Regions from separate parts of the Homo sapiens genome. Here regions 1, 2, 4 and 5 are each reported to be linked to region 3. The links are microRNA targets in miRTarBase. Many come from high-throughput screens and were not tested one by one. Region 3 holds a microRNA gene; each other region holds the end of a gene's coding sequence.
Evidence for each region. Region 3 holds the annotated microRNA hsa-miR-4671-3p (UUAGUGCAUAGUCUUUGGUCU, at 855-875, opposite strand). A microRNA usually pairs through its seed, bases 2 to 8, with sites in the 3' UTR of a target mRNA and lowers its output. Matches are read on the target gene's strand: a 7mer-m8 pairs with bases 2 to 8, a 7mer-A1 pairs with bases 2 to 7 and ends in A, and an 8mer does both.

Region 1: miRTarBase lists ZNF620 as a target of hsa-miR-4671-3p. Seed matches in the 3' UTR shown: 7mer-m8 at 2,112-2,118.
Region 2: the mRNA of ZNF154 is a reported target of hsa-miR-4671-3p. The part of its 3' UTR that is shown has no 7-base or 8-base seed match.
Region 4: miRTarBase lists USP13 as a target of hsa-miR-4671-3p. The part of its 3' UTR that is shown has no 7-base or 8-base seed match.
Region 5: miRTarBase lists SUN2 as a target of hsa-miR-4671-3p. Seed matches in the 3' UTR shown: 7mer-m8 at 1,898-1,904.

Annotation. Positions count from the first base shown.
Region 1 is chr3:40,516,019-40,520,432 of GRCh38, reverse strand. ZNF620 (zinc finger protein 620) reads right to left here. Exons shown (of 5, transcript NM_175888.4): 5 at 1,697-4,414. The coding sequence ends at 3,570. Among named protein-coding and RNA genes, the nearest start is that of ZNF621, 6.7 kb to the left of the region's middle.
Region 2 is chr19:57,698,835-57,701,834 of GRCh38, reverse strand. It overlaps ZNF154 (zinc finger protein 154), which reads left to right. Exons shown (of 3, transcript NM_001085384.3): 3 at 1-3,000. The coding sequence ends at 200. Among named protein-coding and RNA genes, the nearest start is that of ZNF154, 8.9 kb to the left of the region's middle.
Region 3 is chr1:234,304,387-234,307,386 of GRCh38, reverse strand. MIR4671 (microRNA 4671) reads right to left here and starts at 920; the gene lies at 848-920. The region is part of intron 3 of SLC35F3 (solute carrier family 35 member F3); the gene reads right to left.
Region 4 is chr3:179,783,940-179,788,308 of GRCh38, reverse strand. USP13 (ubiquitin specific peptidase 13) reads right to left here. Exons shown (of 21, transcript NM_003940.3): 21 at 1-4,261. The coding sequence ends at 4,168. Among named protein-coding and RNA genes, the nearest start is that of PEX5L-AS2, 110 kb to the left of the region's middle.
Region 5 is chr22:38,732,394-38,736,705 of GRCh38, reverse strand. SUN2 (Sad1 and UNC84 domain containing 2) reads left to right here. Exons shown (of 18, transcript NM_015374.3): 18 at 326-1,972. The coding sequence ends at 439. It overlaps GTPBP1 (GTP binding protein 1), which reads right to left. Exons shown (of 12, transcript NM_004286.5): 12 at 3,119-4,312. Among named protein-coding and RNA genes, the nearest start is that of SUN2, 21 kb to the left of the region's middle.

The DNA.
Region 1 (4,414 bases), not on the chromosome of region 3:
TGGCACCTGCCTGTAATCCCAGCTACTCAGGAGGCTGAGGCTGGAGTATCGCTTGAACTTAGGAGGTGGAGGTTGCAGTGAGCAACCTCCGAAGCTGCAATCATTGAGATCCTGCCACTGCACTCAAGCCTGGGCAACAGAGTGAGACTCTGTCAAAAAAAAAAAAAAAAAAAAAACACAAAAACTATAAAACTTCTAAAGGGAAAACTTTAGGAAAAAAATCTTTGCAAATGTGGGTACAGCAAAGATGTCTTAGATTTGACACTGAAACCATGATCCATTAAAAAAAAAGGCTAGACACAGTGGCTCATGCCTATAATTCCAGCACTTTGGGAGGTCAAGGCAAGAGGCTCGCTTGAGCCCAGGAGTTCAAGACCAGCCTGTGCAACATAGTGAGACCTCATCTCTATTTAAAAATAAAAAACTGATAAATTGGATTTCATGCATATTAATGTCTTCTGCTCTTTAAAAGACACTGTCATGATGTGCACCTGTAATCCCAGCTACTCGGGAGGATGAGGTGGGAGGATCACTTGAACCTGGGAGGCAAAGGTTGCAGTAAGCCAAGATGGTGGTACTGCACTCCAGCCTGGGTAACAGAGTGAGACCCCATCTCAAAAAAAAAAAAAAAAAAAAAAGACACCATTGTGAGAATGAAAAGGCAAACCACAGGCTAGAAGAAAATATTTAAAAATCACATATCTGAAAAAGACTTGTATCCACAATAAATAATGACCTCTCAAAGATTAATAAAACAAAAACAACACAATAAAAACATGGGCAAAAAATATGAGCAGACACTTCATCAAATAAGTTATATGGAACACAAATAAGCACAATAGTCATTAGAGAAATGCAAATTAAAACCACAATGGGATAGCATTAAACAATTAGAATAGCTAAAATTTTAAAAACTGACATCAAGTGTAGGCATAGATGTATTGGAAGTACAACTGTCATACAATGCAAGTGGAAATGTACAATGGCACAACCTCTTTCGTAAAACAGTTTTGAAGATTCTCAAAATGTTAAATAGGGTATGGTGGTGCACACCTGTAGTCCCAGCTACTAAGAGTAGGACAGGGGGACTGAGGCAGGAGGATACCCTGAGCCCAGGAGTTTGAGTCCAGCCTGAACAACAAAGCAAGAACTGCCCCCCACCAACCTCTAAAAAATAAAAACATAATAAAAATTTAAAACGTTTAATCTATACCAATCTACCTAATGACCTAGCCATTCCACTCCTGTATCAAGATAAATGAAAGCATATATTCTTACAAAGATGTGGACACAAATGTCCATAGCAGCTTTATTTGTAATAGCCAAAAACTGAAAACAACCCAAATGGCCATCAACAGGTCAATGAATAAACAAATTATGGCATATCCATACAGTGGAATACTACTCAGCAATAAAAAGGAATGAACTATTGATATATATGCAACAACATGGGTGAATCTCAAAGTAATTATGCTGAGTGAAAGACACCAGACCAAAAAATAAAGGAAAATTAATCCAAGTGACAGAAAGCAAACCAGTGGTTGCCTGTGAAGGGCCAAGAGGAAGGGATTATGGAGGGGTACAAGCAAAGTTTTGGGGTGGTGGCTGATTATTATCTTGAACTGTGATAATTGTTTCACTAGTATATTGATAAGTCAAAACTTACCAATAGGATTATAATAATAGGTAAAAATTTTTTTTTTTTTTTTTTTGAGACGGAGTCTCAATCTGTCACCCAGACTGGAGTGCAGTGGCATGATCTTGGCTCACTGCAACCTCTGCCTCCCTGGGCTCCTGCCTCAGCCTCCCAAGTAGCTGGGACTACAGGCACATGTCACCCCACGCCCAGCTAATTTTTTGTACTTTTAGTAGAGACAGGGTTTCAGTGTGTTAGCAGGATGGTCTTGATCTCCTGACCTTGTGATCTGCCCACCTCAGCCTCCCAAAGTGCTGGGATTACAGGCATGAGCCACTGTGCCCGGCCAATAATAGGTAATACTTTTATTATATGTAGTCACTGTTTGAAACACTTCTACAAATAATGCATTTAATCCCCAACACAAACCTATGAGGTAGATTAACTGTCATCCTCATTTTACAGATAAGGAAACTAGTGCAGTTTTTGTAACTTAACCAAGGACAAACACCTGGACTCAAACCAAAGTCTGCCTGGCTCTGTATTATTAATCACTACTCTCTGCTTCCTGCAAAATCAAGCTGGCTGCCAGAGGGGATGCTAAAACCTAACACATTTACATCTTCCCTCATTTCCACAGGTAACAGCAATAATGGTAGGTTCTTCCATGATCATAAAAAATAACTAGATGGAATTGCAAGAAAATGCTGCCTGCTTTGAGGTCACTTGAAACAGCAATGAGAATAAATTTAAGACAAATGGTGCCTTGCACCTGACTCAAAGAGTATATACATCCTGACTTTTGCAAAGGCACAGAGTACAACTGTCTAGTGAAGACAAACTGAAGAATAAGTAGGGTGGGTGGACACTGAACCTGAGATAGGTCTCTGGAAGTTTGCACCCTACTAGGAATGTCTTCCAAGATGCATTTGGCTCCACATGGACAGGGCCCGTTTTTGAATTTAGGAGACTTCTGACGTACGGACTGCAATAGGGAATCCATATATCTGTCTTTTTATTTACTGGTTTACTCCTTGTGTAGTGTTGCACATATGAGAAAGGATGCATGGGAGATAAAGATTTCAGATTTAAAGGGTCTGAAATGCCTTTATTCTATACTTATACTTTGGAGTATAGAATTGCAGGGGAAAACATTTTCCATGAGAAGTCTGAAGGCATACACATTGTCATCTGACTTTGAAGGTTGCTCTTGAAAAATCTAATGCCATTTTCATTTTTTACTGTTTTTGAGACAAAGTCTCACTCTGTCGCCCAGGCTGGAGTGCAGTGGTGCGATCTCAGCTCACTGCAACCTCTGCCTCAGGGATTCAAGTGATTCTCCTGCCTCAGCCTCTCTAGTAGCTGGGATTACAGGCATGCGCCACCATGCCTGGCTAATTTTTGTGTTTTTTTTTTTCAGGAGAGACGGGGTTTCACCATATTGGGCGGGCTGGTCTCGAACTCCTGACCTCATGATCCACCCGCCTCAGCCTCCCAAAGTGCTGGGATTACAGGCACGAGCCACCGCGCCTGGCCCCGCTTTCATTTCTGATCTTTTGTTTTCTCTCTCTAGAAACTTTTTAGGGTCTCATTTTTTCTCCATGATCCTCTTATTCAAACTTGGTGTTTTCATAATTCACAGCAATTTTCCTTAATGTAGGTTTCCCTTGAATCCATCCTGCTGGGCACCCAGCATGTCCTTTAAATCTGGAAACTTACATTTCCTTTTATGTTTCTAAGTTTGTTTGTTTGTTTTTTGGTCTTCTCTAACCATAAAGAGACTTCATGTTGGGGAAACAGGTTCAAAAAACTTAAAGAAGAGTTCATGATGAAAGCCAAGTGTCTAACCAGGAAGGACAGCGAGGACACTGATAAAAAGCATGAAAATAAAGAGAAAAAAGGAGAGGCACAGTGGGCCTAACTATGGATAGCCCTATGCTTGGACAGGTGTCTTCTGAGTGTGTAGTTTCTGATGCAGAATGAATCTTCCACACCAGCTGAAGGTTTTACCACACACTTTACACTCATAAGGTTTCTCGCCAGTGTGAACTCGCTGGTGCTGAATCAGGGTTATTTTCTGATTGAATGCCTTCCCACACTCCTTACATTCAAAGGGCTTCTCCCCAGTGTGAATTCGCTGATGCTGAGTCAAGGCTGTGTTGGAGCTTAATCGTTTTCCACACTCTTTACATTCATAAGGTTTCTCCCCAGTGTGCATTCGCTGATGGACAGTGAAACTTGAGCTGCAACTGAAAGTTTTCCAACATTCGTTACATTCATAGAGCTTCTCCCCAGTGTGGAACCTCTGGTGCTGGAGGAAGACAGAGCTGCTACTGAAGGCCTTGCCGCACTCCTTACATTCATAGGGCTTTTCTCCAGTGTGGATTCTCTGATGCTGAATCAAGGCTGTGTCTGAACTTAAACCTTTTCCACATTCTTTACATTTAAATGGTTTCTTTCCAGTGTGAATTATCTGATGCCGAATAAGTAATGAGTTATATCTGAAGTATTTTCCACATTCTTTGCATTCAAAAGACTTTTCACCAGTGTGACATTTCTCATGTCGGTGGAAGTCTGCCATTTGAATGAAATATCTGCCACATTGTCCACATTCATAAGATATCTGACCACTAGGATTTGTCTGATTTGTAGTGAGTTGTGTGCTGACGCTAATATTTTTTCCTAATTTCTCAAACTTCTCTCCATTCTTGACCTCATAGGCCTCATGGTGCCTGGCTGAGGTATCTGTGAAATGTCTCCTCTTTGACTTTGTCTTAA
Region 2 (3,000 bases), not on the chromosome of region 3:
TCCGAAAACACCAGAGAGTTCACACTGGATCAAGACCCTATGAGTGCAGTGAATGTGGGAAATCCTTTACTCAAAATTCCGGCCTCATTAAGCACAGGAGGGTTCACACTGGGGAGAAGCCTTATGAGTGCACGGAATGTGGGAAATCCTTTAGCCATAACTCCAGCCTTATTAAACATCAGAGAATTCATAGTCGATAAAAGCCTTATGAGTGGCAAATGTGGAAAATCTGTTAGCACCCTGGAGAAAGTCCTTGAGTACACAGTGAATGTCAGAAAGCTTCAGCTGAAGGCCATATCTCATTGAGTGCCACACAGTTCACAAGGGAAAGACACTTTTGATATGTAGGGATGTCCAGTTGATATAACAGCTCTGAAGGAGATCCCTTATGAGGGTGGCATCAGCCTGAATTGAACATCCTATATCTGAACATCTGCATAAATTCCAGGTATGTGTGAACTGCATTGCACCTTTTGCCCTGCCCAGGGCCCATGTCAGATTTATGTCTCTGCTGATACTATAGTGGAAGCCATTTTACCTCTACTGCCTGGCAGGTGACCACCAGTGTGCACCACTCACCCATCCCAGTGTATTCAGGTAAGTGAACCTTGGTGTTCTGTTCATGGGAGGAATTTGTAAATAGCCTAAGCATTTATTCCGTTTTTTTTTTTTCCTTTCTGATGAGTTAGGCCATGGACCTGACCCAGTTTGGCCCAGAGGACTCTGCTGGTGACCTGAAAAGAGGGACTACATATTTCAGGATATTGTTGGTCTCACATGACTCTTGATAGAGTTTGCCAGCCTTCAAATCACCAACTGTGGGAACCAACTGCCTCTTATTGCCTTGGTTTGTACAATAACAAAGGCCTTATTAATCTTGGGGGTTCTATATGTATGGGTTGGTTTGAAAACAGTTGGGTTCTGCTAACATGAAGGGGTGAATAACTTTTTTTGGAGATCCCAAACATTGTGTAGCTCAACAGGGACAGGGACAGGGACAGTAGGATGGCAGAATATAGCTCTCTCTCTAGTTTGAGCCTAGTTTTCATTGCTATTCAAGGCCTCTGAGAAAAAACTACAGGGTATTGTCCTAATTTATATCCTGGATGCCATAGAGGTCAGCCTGAGGAGGCAGCAGTTACTTGACATCCTTTGATGTTTCTGAAAGCAACATGAAATTGTTCTCTTGTTCACAAGGAATACTGCATCGTGTTCAGTGCCAGTGGGGGAAATCTGTTCCCCAGGTCCTGTATGCCTTGATATCCTGAATTCCACAGGGTAGCACCACAGGTGGTAAGATTATAGTAGGAATTATAATTGTTATAGAAGTACTGGATTGATAGAGAGTGGAAAACTGCAATAACACTGCAATAAATAGAATGTGCCCCTTTTACAGAGGTTTCCATGATGTTCGTTATTATGGCTCTTAAGGATGAGCAGGTACAGAAATCCTCAGGACCTACAGAATTGTGTATCTTGTGTAGCTGAGGTCATTGTCAGAAATTTTATGGAATCCTGTAGCCTCTGGGATTTTCACCTCAAGGTCATTGCTATGCAGGCAGGAAAACAAGGATAGAGAAGGGAGGTCTAGGCCATTGATACAGCCTTTGTGATCCAGCCAACATTTCTGTTGAGTCAGGTGGAAATGGCCTTCACTGTTCACTTGTATTTGTGATCACTGAGGCAAAATCCTCTCCCAGGACATGAGGAGAGAGATGGTGGAATCAACATAGGGTTGTCAAACCTGATTTTCCAAAAACAATAGGAAATTCAGACTTTTATTTTGAACCATATTTTGTTAGGTTGGTGCAAAAGTAACTGTGGTTTTGAACCATGATTTATTTTTATTTTTATTTTTTTTTGAGTCAGAGTCTTGCTCTGTTGCCCAGTCTGGAGGGCAATGGCACTATCTCAGCTCATTGCAACCTCCGCCTCCCAGGTTCAAGCGATTCTTCTGCCTCAGCCTCCCAGGTAGCTGGGATTACAGGCACCCGCCACCACGCCCATCTGAGTTTTGCATTTTTAGTAGACATGGGGTTTCACCATGTTGGCCAGGCTGGTCTTGAACTCCTGACTTCATGTGATCCACCCACCTTGGCCTCCCAAAGTGCTGGGATTTACAGGCATGAGCCACTGCGCCCAGCCAAGCTTTTTCACCATTCCAATTTCCTTCAAATGCTGAACAGCCGTGGAATGGTTGACATTGAGTTCTTAGGCAACTTCTCATGTAGTTGTAAGAGGATCAGCTTCTAATATTGCTCTCAATTGGTCATTGTCAACTTCCAGTGGCTGGCCACTACTTCTCTTCAAGGCTCTTGTCTCCTTTGCAAAACTTCTTGAACCACCACTGCACTGTACATTCGTTAGCAGTTCCTGGGCCAAATGTGTTTATATCGTGAGTTGTCTCTGCTGCTTTACGACCCATTGGGAACTCAAGTAAGAAAATCTCAGCCGGGTGCGGTGGCTCACGCCTGTAATCCCAGCACTTTGGGAGGCTGAAGTAGGTGGATCACAAGGTCAGGAGTTAGAGACCAGCCTGACCAACATATTGAAACCTCATCTCTACTAAAAATACAAAAATTAGCCGGGCGTGGTGGCATGTGCCTGTAGTCCCAGCTACTTGGGAGGCTGAGGCAGGAGAATCACTTGAACCCGGGAGGCAGAAGTCACAGTGAGCCAAGATCACGCCACTGCACTCCAGCCTGGACGACAGACAAAACAAGACTCCGTCTCAAAAAAAAGAGGCCAGATGCGGTGGCTTACACCTGTAATCCCAGCACTTTGGGAGGCCGAGGTGGGTGGATCACAGGTCACGAGTTCGAGACCAGCCTGGCCAACATGGTGAAACCCCGTCTCTACTAAAAATACAAAAATTAGCTGGGCATAGTGGCATGCACCTGTAATCCCAGCTACTGGGGAGCCTGAGGCACGAGAATTGTTTGAACCCCGGGAGGTGGAGGTTGCAGTGAGCCAAGATCATGTCACTGCACTCCAGCCTGG
Region 3 (3,000 bases):
AGAAACACACTTACCGTTTTGTGGAGTCTGGTGCAGTTTGGCCACCTCTCTCTGTACACAGAGTCCTATGTTGCTTCTGAACAAACCGGGGCCAGGTAAAACATTCACTTCACTAAATTTATCATGAAACCGATTCAACTGAATTGATTCCATTTTGGCTTTATATAGCTGCAACCCTCATCTAACTGAGAGGCTGATATTTCTGTTTGCCATGTAATTTTCATACAATATTCCAGCTACATTTTCTATGGGGTTTTCCCAAGCCCCTGTTTGCAGAACAGTCTGTTCCCCCAGGGGCAGTGACCGTGAATGATGGCTTCCTTTATGTTTGTGATTATGGTGGCTACAAAGTGATGCTGGTCCATTGAGTATGACCAAAATAAAATACAAATATTCTTTCTGGCCATTAATGTCAATCTATCTCCACTATACTTAGAGGTTTCCCTTTCTAAGAGAAGAACATCATGCAAGCAGAATTTCCAAGTTCCACCTGGCTCACTGTCATGAAAAACAATTCATCTTCTGGAAGGGGCCATCCAAGGCTAACTGGGCAACCTACTTCCTCTTTGAAAATCCATATTTGACTCCTCCAAAGCCTGATCATTGTAGATGGGATGGAGAAGGGAGGTAGGGCACAGATATGGCTTGGTATTGATGGCCCAAGTTGCTGGAAATGGGGAGAGAGTGGGGATCCCATCCTGGAGATGAAAAAGGTGAGACTCTGAGGCCTGGCAGAGTCCTGCTGGCCCTTTAAGGCCTCATGGCCAGGAGATCACAGCTTAGGTTGGTAGGTCTTGGTTCTAATGAGACCAAGACAATTGGCCCCCTGGACTGGTGAGCTTTGTGATATTTTGAGACCAAAGACTATGCACTAATCTTCAGTGCTAAGAGATTAGCGCACAGTCTTCGGTCTTAAAATAGCATAATATTGGCCGGCAGCGGTGGCTCACACCTGTAATCCTAGCACTTTGAGAGGCCGAGGCGGGTCAGCTGAGGTCAGGAGTTTGAGACAAGCCTGGCCAACATGGTGAAACCCTGTCTCTACTAAAAATTCAAAAATTAGTCAGGCATGGTGGTGAGCACCGGTAATCCCAGCTACTCGGGAGCCTGAGGCAGGAGAATCACTTGAACCCGGGAGGCGGAGGTTGCAGTGAGCTGAGATTGCACCATTGCACTCCAGCCTAAGTGACAAGAGTGAAACTCCATCTCAAAAAACAAACAAACAAAAAAACCCAGCACAATATCTCAGGATCTGGCTGGCCCATGTACGTCCTTGATTGCAAGGGAACCCAAGACAGATGATGAACATGAATCCATTTCTGCCAGAGACCTCCCTCTTCTTGGTATACAAATGGAGCACAGTCAACACTCTCTTGACTGACGCCCACATTACTGACGGGACAGTCTAACACCCTTCATTCCTTCTGCTCACTGATGCTGCTGGCAGGCTTAAGACTAGAGGGTGGCAGGTTACTTCCAGAACACTCAAGTCCTTCTGTTCCTATGGATTGAGTCACATACAAAGATTAGATGTATTTACTTCTGATCCTGCTTGTGCCAGTTAGCTGTTCTTGGTATTTCAATTACACGGTTTAATTAAGTATTTCATAAACCAATGAAATATGAGTGGGAAACGAAAACTTTTTTTCCATGAAATCTAAATTGAGAGCTTCAAGAAAGACTTAATAAAAATAAGCAATACTAGGCTGGGGGTGGTGGCTCACGCCTGTAATCCCAGCACTTTGGGAGGCCAAGGTGGGTGGATCACAGGGTCAGGAGATCGAGACCAGCCTGACCAACATGGTGAAACCCCATTTCTACTAAAAACACAAAAAAATTAGCCAGGCATGGTGGTGCGCGCCTGTAGTCCCAGCTACTTGGGAGACTGAGGGAGGGGAATCGCTTGAACCTGGAAGGCGGAGGTTGCAGTGAGCCAAGGTGGTGCCACTGCATTCTAGCCTGGTGACAGAGCAAGACTCTGTCTCAAAAAAAAAAAAAAAAAAGCAATACTGCTACTGAATATTTAATTATTCAATAGAATTATTCAAAGAAACATGGTAAAAGAAAAAATGGTAAAAATCTATAAGTTCTGCACTCATATTATTTGACAAATACTTACATACTTATGTTCTTAGTACTCTTTAAAGAATCCTAGCTGGGATAGCCTGTCTTGACTTCATATTCTAACTTTTCTATGAATTTCTAAAATTTGGTTATATCACACATTTAGGGATGAGGATGGCTTATCATTTAATTCATATCAACAAACACTGGTTTAGCACTTGCCATTCCCACAATTCTAGACAAGGCCTTGTGGCTGATACAGAAAAGTAAACTTTTCAAGCTAAGGAAGCTTTTCTTTTAAACTAAGATGAATTATTTCTTTTGTAATTTCCTCCACTTCAGTTTTTCTATTTAGTTTTTTTCTATTTCAGTTTTTCTGGTGCTTCTTTTAGTTTGATATTGGATCTTTTGGTTTGATCTTCTAATTTTCTTTTTTCCTTCTTGCTTTCTCTATCTTATTTTATGGGAGATTATCTTGACTTTATATTCCAACTCTTCTATTACATTTTAAAATATTGGTATCCTACATTTAATTTTCAAGAGCAGCCCCTGCTCATGAGAAGGTGTAATTGGGGAGATAACATTTATCCTTCCATAGGAGGCAATGCAAGCCTAACATATTCACATAGGAGATAGATGGTGTGGAATATAATGATGCTACAGTGGAGAGTTGGGCTGACTGGATAAGTCCTCATAAAAATGTGGATTTTGAGCTGAACCGAAGGACTAAAGGACAGGAAGGATTTATATAGGTATGTGCGTGGGGTGGCAGAGAGATAATATCCTTGCAGAGATAAGAGAAGATATTGTATCTATGAAACAAGAACAAATGGTTATTAAAAAGGATATAATCTTGGAAATTAAATATATAACTACATTTTAGAAATTAATAGACATTTTGGGATGCCAAGGCGGGCAGATCACTTGAGGTCAGGA
Region 4 (4,369 bases), not on the chromosome of region 3:
AGAACCTTGTTCTATAGCGTAGGATTTCTTTTATCTAAAGGACATTATCACACTTTATCTAATCCCATCCCCTGGTCCTGCCCCTGCCCCCTGCCATCTCCCCACAGAAGGCATGTACTGATGTGATTTAGCAGCAGTGATGCCTACAAGATGACAAGGACGGCCTTTCTGTGGTAGACAATTTTGTCAGCACTTATTTGGGGATCACAGCTCTAGCTAAATTAGAATTTTGTTTCCCATCCTCTTCCAGAATTTCAAAATATTCTATAAAGGTGACAGATGTAGTTGAAGGCAGTTCTGAGGCTTTTCTAGGAGGACACTTTAAATGGATTTTTTGTTTTGTTTTTGAGGGGGATGGAGCCAAAGTACCTCATGGACTAGAAAGTTGTTTTTTTCAAGAGTAGAAAAAAAGTGGGGCTGGACGCGGTAGCTCATGCGTGTAATCCCAGCACTTTGGGAGGCTGAGGCAGGTTGAGGTCAAGAGTTCAAGACCAGCCTGGCCAACATGGCAAAACCCTGTCTCTACTAAAAATACAAAAATTAGCTGGGCGTAGTGGCGTGCGCCAGTAATCCCAGCTACTTGGGAAGCTGAGGCAGGAGAATCACTTGAACCCGGGAGGAGGCTGCAGTGAGCTGAGATTGCACCACTGTACTCCAGCCTTGGCAACACAGCGAGACTCCATCTCAAGAAAAAAAAAAAGTGGGATGATTACCCAAAAAAGTATAGATAAGTGGAGCAGGAATACAAACAGAGGGGTCGTGGGGCCACTAAGAATGACACAGGTCCTCAACTGGGGAGTATAAGCTGTAACAATGCAAAAATATAACATCCAAACCTCTAAGTGATCCCTCACATTTTACGTGTCAGACCCTAGTGGTAACCACAGGAAAATAAAAATAAAATGTTAGGGCAAGAGAGGACTTTGGAGCTAATCTAGTCTAACCCACTTGTTTCAAATGAAAAGGCCCAGAGAGGTACAGTGATTCAGTCCCACCTCACTTAGAGTGGAGTCAGGATACAGACCCAGGTGCTCTCACTATGAATTGCAGGTAAGGCTCTGTTCAGGTAAAGGGAATAAATGACTCAGGGAGCAAGAGGCTCGAGCTATCCCCGCTGGACTTCCTATAGCCCAAAGTAAGCACTGGGAAATGTCAGGCACATTCTCTTGCAGGTAGGAGAAAGCAGCCTGGTCAATTCCAAAATATTGAAGCAACGTTGATGTAAAGTGTCACTAACACATGATTCTTCCAATAGTCTTTTCTGCATACTTTTTTTTTCTTTAAAAGAAAATCCCAATCTGAACCAAACTGGATTTCTGATTAGTTATATGGGCATTTAGATCAATTGGCAAAATAAAAACTTTGATACATTACCTTTTCCAAAGACATATTCATTGGAATTCTACATAAATGGATATCAAAAGATATTTACAGGAAGAAAGTGCTGTCTTTCACACAGACACCCATATACAGGGAGAATTTCACAATTAGACCACCATGCCTCACATAGAGGACTGCTAACAGACTGATAATGAGTTGACAAAATCCACACGTTATTCCACTTTTCAGTCACAAATAATCGTGTCTACACAAGTGTAAAATTAAGCAGTACATTCCAGACTTTTATAGGGGAACCTGCCTTGTATATATTGAGATACACATATAAATATGCTTTTAAGCAAGTAAGAAACCCATTATTTACTCCAGTTTTTCCCAACTCTCAATCTGAAGTAAAGAATAGCACATATACAAAACTTTGCCTTGTAGAAATAGCCCTTTGTGTTGTGGGGCAGAAGAAAAGGCAGCCATAGCACAATTTTTTTACAACATGTCTAGGCATCAAAAGGGCTAGTTAATGAAATCAAACAATTTATAGCCTATAGTCTTAAATATTGATTTTACATCACTGATTTTTAAAAGTTTTATTACAAAATTTTTATTTTATTCAAAATACACATGCTATCTTTGTCCACATTTCAATCCAAACCACCCAGTCACCCCCAATTCCAAAAAACAGGCCTTTGTTTTATAACATCGCTGAAAACAAGCCATTTTTGACGTGGGTTTGGAGTCATTATTCTATGACACTCACTCTGCCCTAAGGGGACTGGATTTTGTAAGGCTGCTTACTGTGGGGATGTCCACGGGAGTCAGTGACTCTCATAACAGAGTGGGACTGCTTTAGGAAATCCAAGTTAACATTAGGAGGTGACACCAGTGGGCACACTTTGGTAGAAAAGTACTGCACCGTGAGCTCCCTCCTTCTGCCAATCTCATTTGTTCCCAAATTGAGGAAAACAGAGGAGAAAAGGCAGGGAGCACCATCTACTACAACCCACCATGGCATACCACATTCTACTCATTGAAGGTTCACTGTAACCAATCTCACTGTATCCTCAAAGCATGATTGAAAGAGAGGGCAGGTGTCATCATACCATTGTTCAGATGAGGACAGTGAGGCACAGGACGGATGAAGGACTTGCCCAAGGTCCACAGTCAGCTAGGAGCAGCACCCAGGTCTCCAGGCCATGGGCCTTAGACACCATGTCTCTCGGTCACATGGCACCAAAGGATCACCTATGAGACAGGGACCCCCATCACACCCAGAATCCTGATTGTTCACAACTCACTACATCCTAACCCAATGTCTGTGCTTTGTTTCACCTGGTTGGTTCTGTTTATTTTCCTACAGTTTCTAAAAAGATCCTTTCAACCAAACAAATACATGTTAAACAGACAGCAATAAATTCTTTTTCGTTTGACCAAATACTCTGAAATAGCAACTCCAGAGACTCTAGAATTTGGTACGGACCAGTAGGAAAATTATGGAAATTATAGAATGCTATCATTCCACTTTTCATCACGTTGGAAACTCTAATCTAATCCCAGGTTGCAACTAAAATGCTGAAATAACCAAAATGGAAAGGATAGTCTTTCATAATGTTGTATAAAGTTTCTTTGCATCTAAAATCCTTAGTGTGTCCAAGATCACACTGTTGGTCACATCAGACAAGCAATGAAGGCAAGTCAGAAGGTGATACACCAAAAAAAGGCAGAGATGAGACTCTGGCCCCAGAAAAACAAGGAAACGGAGGCAGATAAAGAGCTCAGAGATGGGAAAATCACAGACAAATTTGGGGCACTTGACATGACTCCAAAGAGTTATCATGTGAGATGGTAAAAAGAGATTAGCTATTTTTACTAAAAATAAACACCATACCTTTTGGGGAAAGGGCTGCTGAGAAACAGAGAATTTACCTACCTTTGACAAAGTACAATATTATGCTGCTGTGGGCATCTAGCATTACACCAGCAAATGTCCCAAACCCAAGTGAATTCTTGACAGCACTTAAAGGCATAACTCAGCCCTTTTTACTCCTTAAAAATCTAAGTGGGGAACTAATCTTCTCGAAGGTTCCTGAGTCATAGTTTTGTTAAAATATTTACTTGCTTTTTTCAGATATGCTTAATATCAACTGTTCAGACTTTAAAAACCAACTTGTCACAGATTTTCTAGTGGACTCACTTTTCTAGTAAAAGTCTCACACTCTCAGTCAGTCTCACACACATTCACACAATCGTATTATGAATTTTAATGTGACAAATTAAAAATATCTTTCATTGCAGAGGCTCTATTATGGACAGAGCATAATATCTACATGGATACATCAGAAATTATTGTATGTCATGAAAAAAATTATGTCACAAATAAAGCCCCACCCAACTGCTGATTTTCTATATGAAACACAAGTGGGCTTTTCATTTGTTGTGGGTAAGGCCACACCACTGGCCACATTATTTGGTTTCTCCAGAGGCCACTATCACTGACCCCCAAAGCAAAATAGAGGGCTGGGGGCACATCCCCATTTTTGATGTGCTGATGGCAGATCCTCCACCAGCAATATGAATACTTTTTTTGTTTTTAAATATCATCATCTTTTTGAACATTTATAAAAACTATCTACAATATAATAGTGTATCATCACTAATAGAAATTTCTTCTCAGTTCTATTTCAGAAGGTGTCAACTGATCGTGCTCTTTAAATAAACGATAAATACCCCATATATTCCTTCATGTCTAGTTGTTTCAACTTCTTCTTCTTCTTTTTTTTTTTGGCAAATTAAAAAGGCGTATGGCTTCTTTTCGCCAATTTTTATATTTGAGGTTTAGCTTGGTATCCTGCGGTAAAAGTACATGTAGCCCAGGTCTTTAGGGGGCCTTTCTGAGGCACAAACTTTGTGGTCATTGTAAATCACCCATCTGAAAATAAGACAGAAGCATTTGATGGATTTAAGTCAGTTCCAGGAAACTTTACACAAAGAAGTCACTAAATCATATGGCGCACAACACTTAACCATGATGTTTTAA
Region 5 (4,312 bases), not on the chromosome of region 3:
AGAATCAAGTGTGCCCCACATCAGCATCTATGAAGCCCTCTATGAAGGTGGTTCTATCTGTTGATCACAATAAAAAAACGATTGTGGATGAATTCATTCCGGTTTCAGATGAAGTGTGCTACAGGTGGCCCCTTAACCCACTGGCTGGAAACACTGCTCAGGAGGCTAAAGATAGGAGCTTTTGAAGCCTGGTTCTCTTCAGAGCCCCAGGGAAGGAGCAGGGGAGCCATCTGGCCCTAGGCGAGGCTGTCTCCCCTTCCCACCTTCTCTGTCAGTGAGGCCTCACAGGTCTCTGATGCTCTTAATCCCTTTCTTCTCTACCCAGGCCCCTACGATGGCCACGTACCAGGTGGTGGAGCTGCGGATCCTGACTAACTGGGGCCACCCCGAGTACACCTGCATCTACCGCTTCAGAGTGCATGGGGAGCCCGCCCACTAGCCCTGCTTACTGGTGCCTGCTGCCAGCCATCTGGGAGTGGGTGAACAGCACCCCGCCGCTTCCCCCACACGCTTGCTCGGCGCTCTGACTTCTAGGAGCACAAGAGAGGAGCCTGTGGCCCCATGCAGATGAAAAGGACGGGCAGGGTCTCCTGAGCAGCAGGTGGCTCGAGGCGGTTAGCAGGCTCCAGCAGCTCCCTTCTTCCTTCCCTCTGTGCCCGTGGCGTCTGCTTCCCATCCTGGGAGTGTGTATATATGTAGCATATCATGGGGGACTGGGAAGTTGGGAGAGGTAGGACCTGACTGGTCTTGGCTGGGGTCAGGGGCTGGTGCCTGGGAGCTGATGAAGCAGGTGCCAGGGCTGTGGGAGGGGCAAGCTACGGCCTGGGCTAGGTGAGCTGCCTCTGCCCCTGGGCAAGGAAGCGAGGCCCTCTGGGAGGAGGGTGCTTAGCTCCAGAGCAGGATGGGACTTCCCCAGGCAGGAAGCACTTGATGGAGAGCTGCCCAGCTCTCCTACAAGGTTAGTGCCCTCCACCTAGGGAAGCATGAACCACAGGGTCCCTGAGGGCCTTCGACAAAAGTGTGTATTTGTCCCGGGGAGGGTAGCAGTGGGCCATGGGGCTTCTTGTGCCCTAAAGGGGACTGGCTGCTGTGATCTTCTAAGGGGCCCAGGGCCAACCCTGTAGGCTTCCCCTCTGCTGGGGACGGTAGTTGCTTTTCTCTCTCCTGATGCTAGGTTGGGGCCCACCCTGCTCCCTGTTCCTGCTAGGGCCTGCCAGTGCCCCTGAGCTTGCTTTCCACATTCTCCCAGGGTATGGAGACCTAGACCTGTCTTTGGGGCCATTAGCATCTGGGGTTATAGCAAGAAGAGTGGGGAGCATGGAACTCCTGGGCTCTTGTGGGGACGTTCAGGGTATCGGGGTGCGAGGTCTGTCTGCACCGGCCCCCACATCTAACCAGGCCCTGATGTAGGGGTCGTCCGCTCAGGCTGCCCCCTTGGGCTCTTGCAGCTCTTGTTCAGGTAGTCGCCCTTCTGGTTTGTTCTCTGTGGGGCAGTTGGTGGGGGCTGGGGGAAGAGGCTGGCAGAAGTTACCCTGGATAGGGAAGGGGGAGGAGGGGACTTTTAGAGCCAGCAGGCCCCACTGTATTATGTATATATTTTTCAAGGTCTGTTTTTCTAACTGAAAAGCTAAGGGCTTGATTCCTAGCCCCGTTCTGTGGGGCACTGGGTGATACTCAGTTTCTTGTTCCTGGCCGTGGAGAGGGGCCTGGGGCACTGGTTCCGGCTGTGTCTGGTGGTCTGGCTGCGGGGAAGGGGCAAGAAGGCGGGCAGGCCTTCACTGCAGCACTGAGCCTCAAATCCGCTCTGGAGCATGAGGCTGGATGCAGTGGTGGTGAGGCCGCCCCGCTCCATCCCGAGGCAGCCAGGGTTTGTTTTGCGCTCTCCTGTCACAAATGCTGCACTATTGGTTCTTAAGTTTTTTATCTCCAGATCCTAATTTATGCCTATGCAAAAAATAAATGACGCCCAAGAGCTGTGGGATGTGGCTTTCATGTGGCTTTTGCCTATCACCTAGGGCAGCTGCTCTTGGGCAGATGAGGGAATGAATTCTTGGCCAAACGAATGTCCCCAAAGACTTATTCCTGAAGTTCAGAAACCCACAACTTTCAGCTAAAGCCCAGTTGTGGTGGGGGATGGGACCTGAGGCAGGTCTCCTCCAGTGTTTGTGGGTCAAGGGCTGGCATGAGGAAGCAGTGAGGTGGCTTTATTAGCTGTCATTGATAACCCATCACAAAGGGTGGGGCGGGAGCAGTGGGGCTTTCCTGTCTCTCAGTACCACTGAACAGCAGCAGAAAAAGTTACACTTACCTACCAGCCACGTCCACTTGGAGTGCAGTGATTCTCCTCCATGGGAATTCGCTATTTGCCCCTTGGACCTGTGACTGGGAAGGGACAAGGAGGTAGGTCCCTTGAACAGCCAGCAGCTTAGGAGAAAAACAGGCCCTGACCTTTCCCACAGATAGCTCCCCAGACCTGGTTCGCGTGGTTCTCTAGCCTGATCCTGGAGCCTCTCATACTGACCGTGGCACCTGGCCCAGGGCTGCTCCTCATCATGGCTGAGAAAACAAAGGCAGAAAGCCAGTCAGTAGGGAGGACTGTGGAGACAGCCACAAGGCAGGAGCTGGGTGAGGCACAAATCCAGCCCCCAAAGCCTTGGGCCAGCTCCTCAGCCTCTTGGGAGACAGCTGGTCCTGTGCTCACTCCCCTTCACTGACACCTGCTCTGCCTCTGACGCCATCTAAACAAAGGAGACATCCCCACGCAGCACCAATAAACAAGCCCCTGGAAGTTGCCACACACTGTGGCAAGAGTCCAGAGCCTGGGCTGGGCACATGCCCTCTGCCCATCTGTACATTCAAATCCTACTGGGCCCTCACAGCACAGCCCTCACACTGCCGGCTCCATGGTACTTCCCCCAACCCAACTAAACCTGTGCTGCCCCTGTGCGTGGCATATTCATCCCTGTGACCTTCTCTGTGCCAGGGTGGCTGATAAGCCAGAACAGTCCTGACTGTGGAGTCAGGGGTCTGGCCATCCCCATCCCACCATCACAGGCCTTACTCCTGGGAAAGACGCCACAAACACCTGCTGCACACACAGAAGGGTCAGGCCTTGCCATTGGAGGTGATTGGATTAACAATTTTATTCTGCATCCACTACAAAAGGGCTGGTGTTTTGTTCCAAATGTTTAGCTGGGAGGGCTGTAGGGACCCCTGTTACCCCCATTAAACACAGTAAAGCATGGATCCAGTCAGCCCCCTGCTGGCAGGTGTGGGCCTGGCAACTACACAGATCCAACCCCACCCTCCTGGGTGCGGCCAGAGGCCAAGGCAGTCGCCCGAGCTCCTGAATCCCAAGAATGGTTCTGGCAAGTACTGCTGTTTGTTTGTAGGGGCAAAGAGTTAAAATAAAACGAGGTTCTGCCATGGCTAAGCCTTGTGGAAACCAGACCCCAAAGCCCCTGCCATGCCAGGGGTCTCAACGCCAGACGCTTGTTATGGAGGCACCAGCAGGTAGTGGCCCCTGTAAGCAGGGCCAGAGTCGGGACAAAGAGCAGGAGTGAAGCAGCCAAGAGACAGAGGACCAGGCTGGAGCCAGTGGGCACGCAGGAGCCTGCCTGGGAAAAGCCGGGGGGCAAGGCTGGCATGGGAATGAACACCTGCTGGTGACACCTCTCTGAGCTTCAGTTCCCTTAACTAGAAAAATAGAACAGGCCCGGTGCGGTGGCTCATACCTGTAATCCCAGCACTTTGGGAGGCTGAGGCGGGTGGATCATGAGGTCAGGAGATCAAGACCACCCTGGCCGACATGGCGAAACCCTGTCTCTACTAAAATACAAAAAGTTAGCTGGGCGTGGTGGCGTGCACCTGTAGTCCCAGCTACTCAGAAGGCTGAGGCAGAGAATCACTTGAAACTGGCAGGCGGAGGTTGCAGTGAGCAGAGATCACACCACTGCACTCCAGCCTGGCAACACAGCGAGACTCCGTCTCAAAAAAGAAAAAGAAAAACAGAACAAACATCGACCTCAGGGGCGGCTGCTGGGAATGTCAACAGGAGCGTGTGAGACTCCTGGCAGTCCCAGCCAGAGCTTTCCTTTGGAGCCTGCCCAGGGCACAGAGGTGGCAGGGTGGCTAACGGTGTGCAGACCGCTCACTGAGCAAGCCTTTCCCTTGTGTAGGACACCCCAGGGCCTCACATTCTCTGAATCCACACAAGGTGATGGATGGCTTTGCCTCTTGTAAATGAGAAAACTGAGGTTCAGAGAAGGTTTGTAAGCTTGTCCCGTGTCACCAGCTGGTGAGGGAGCCTGAA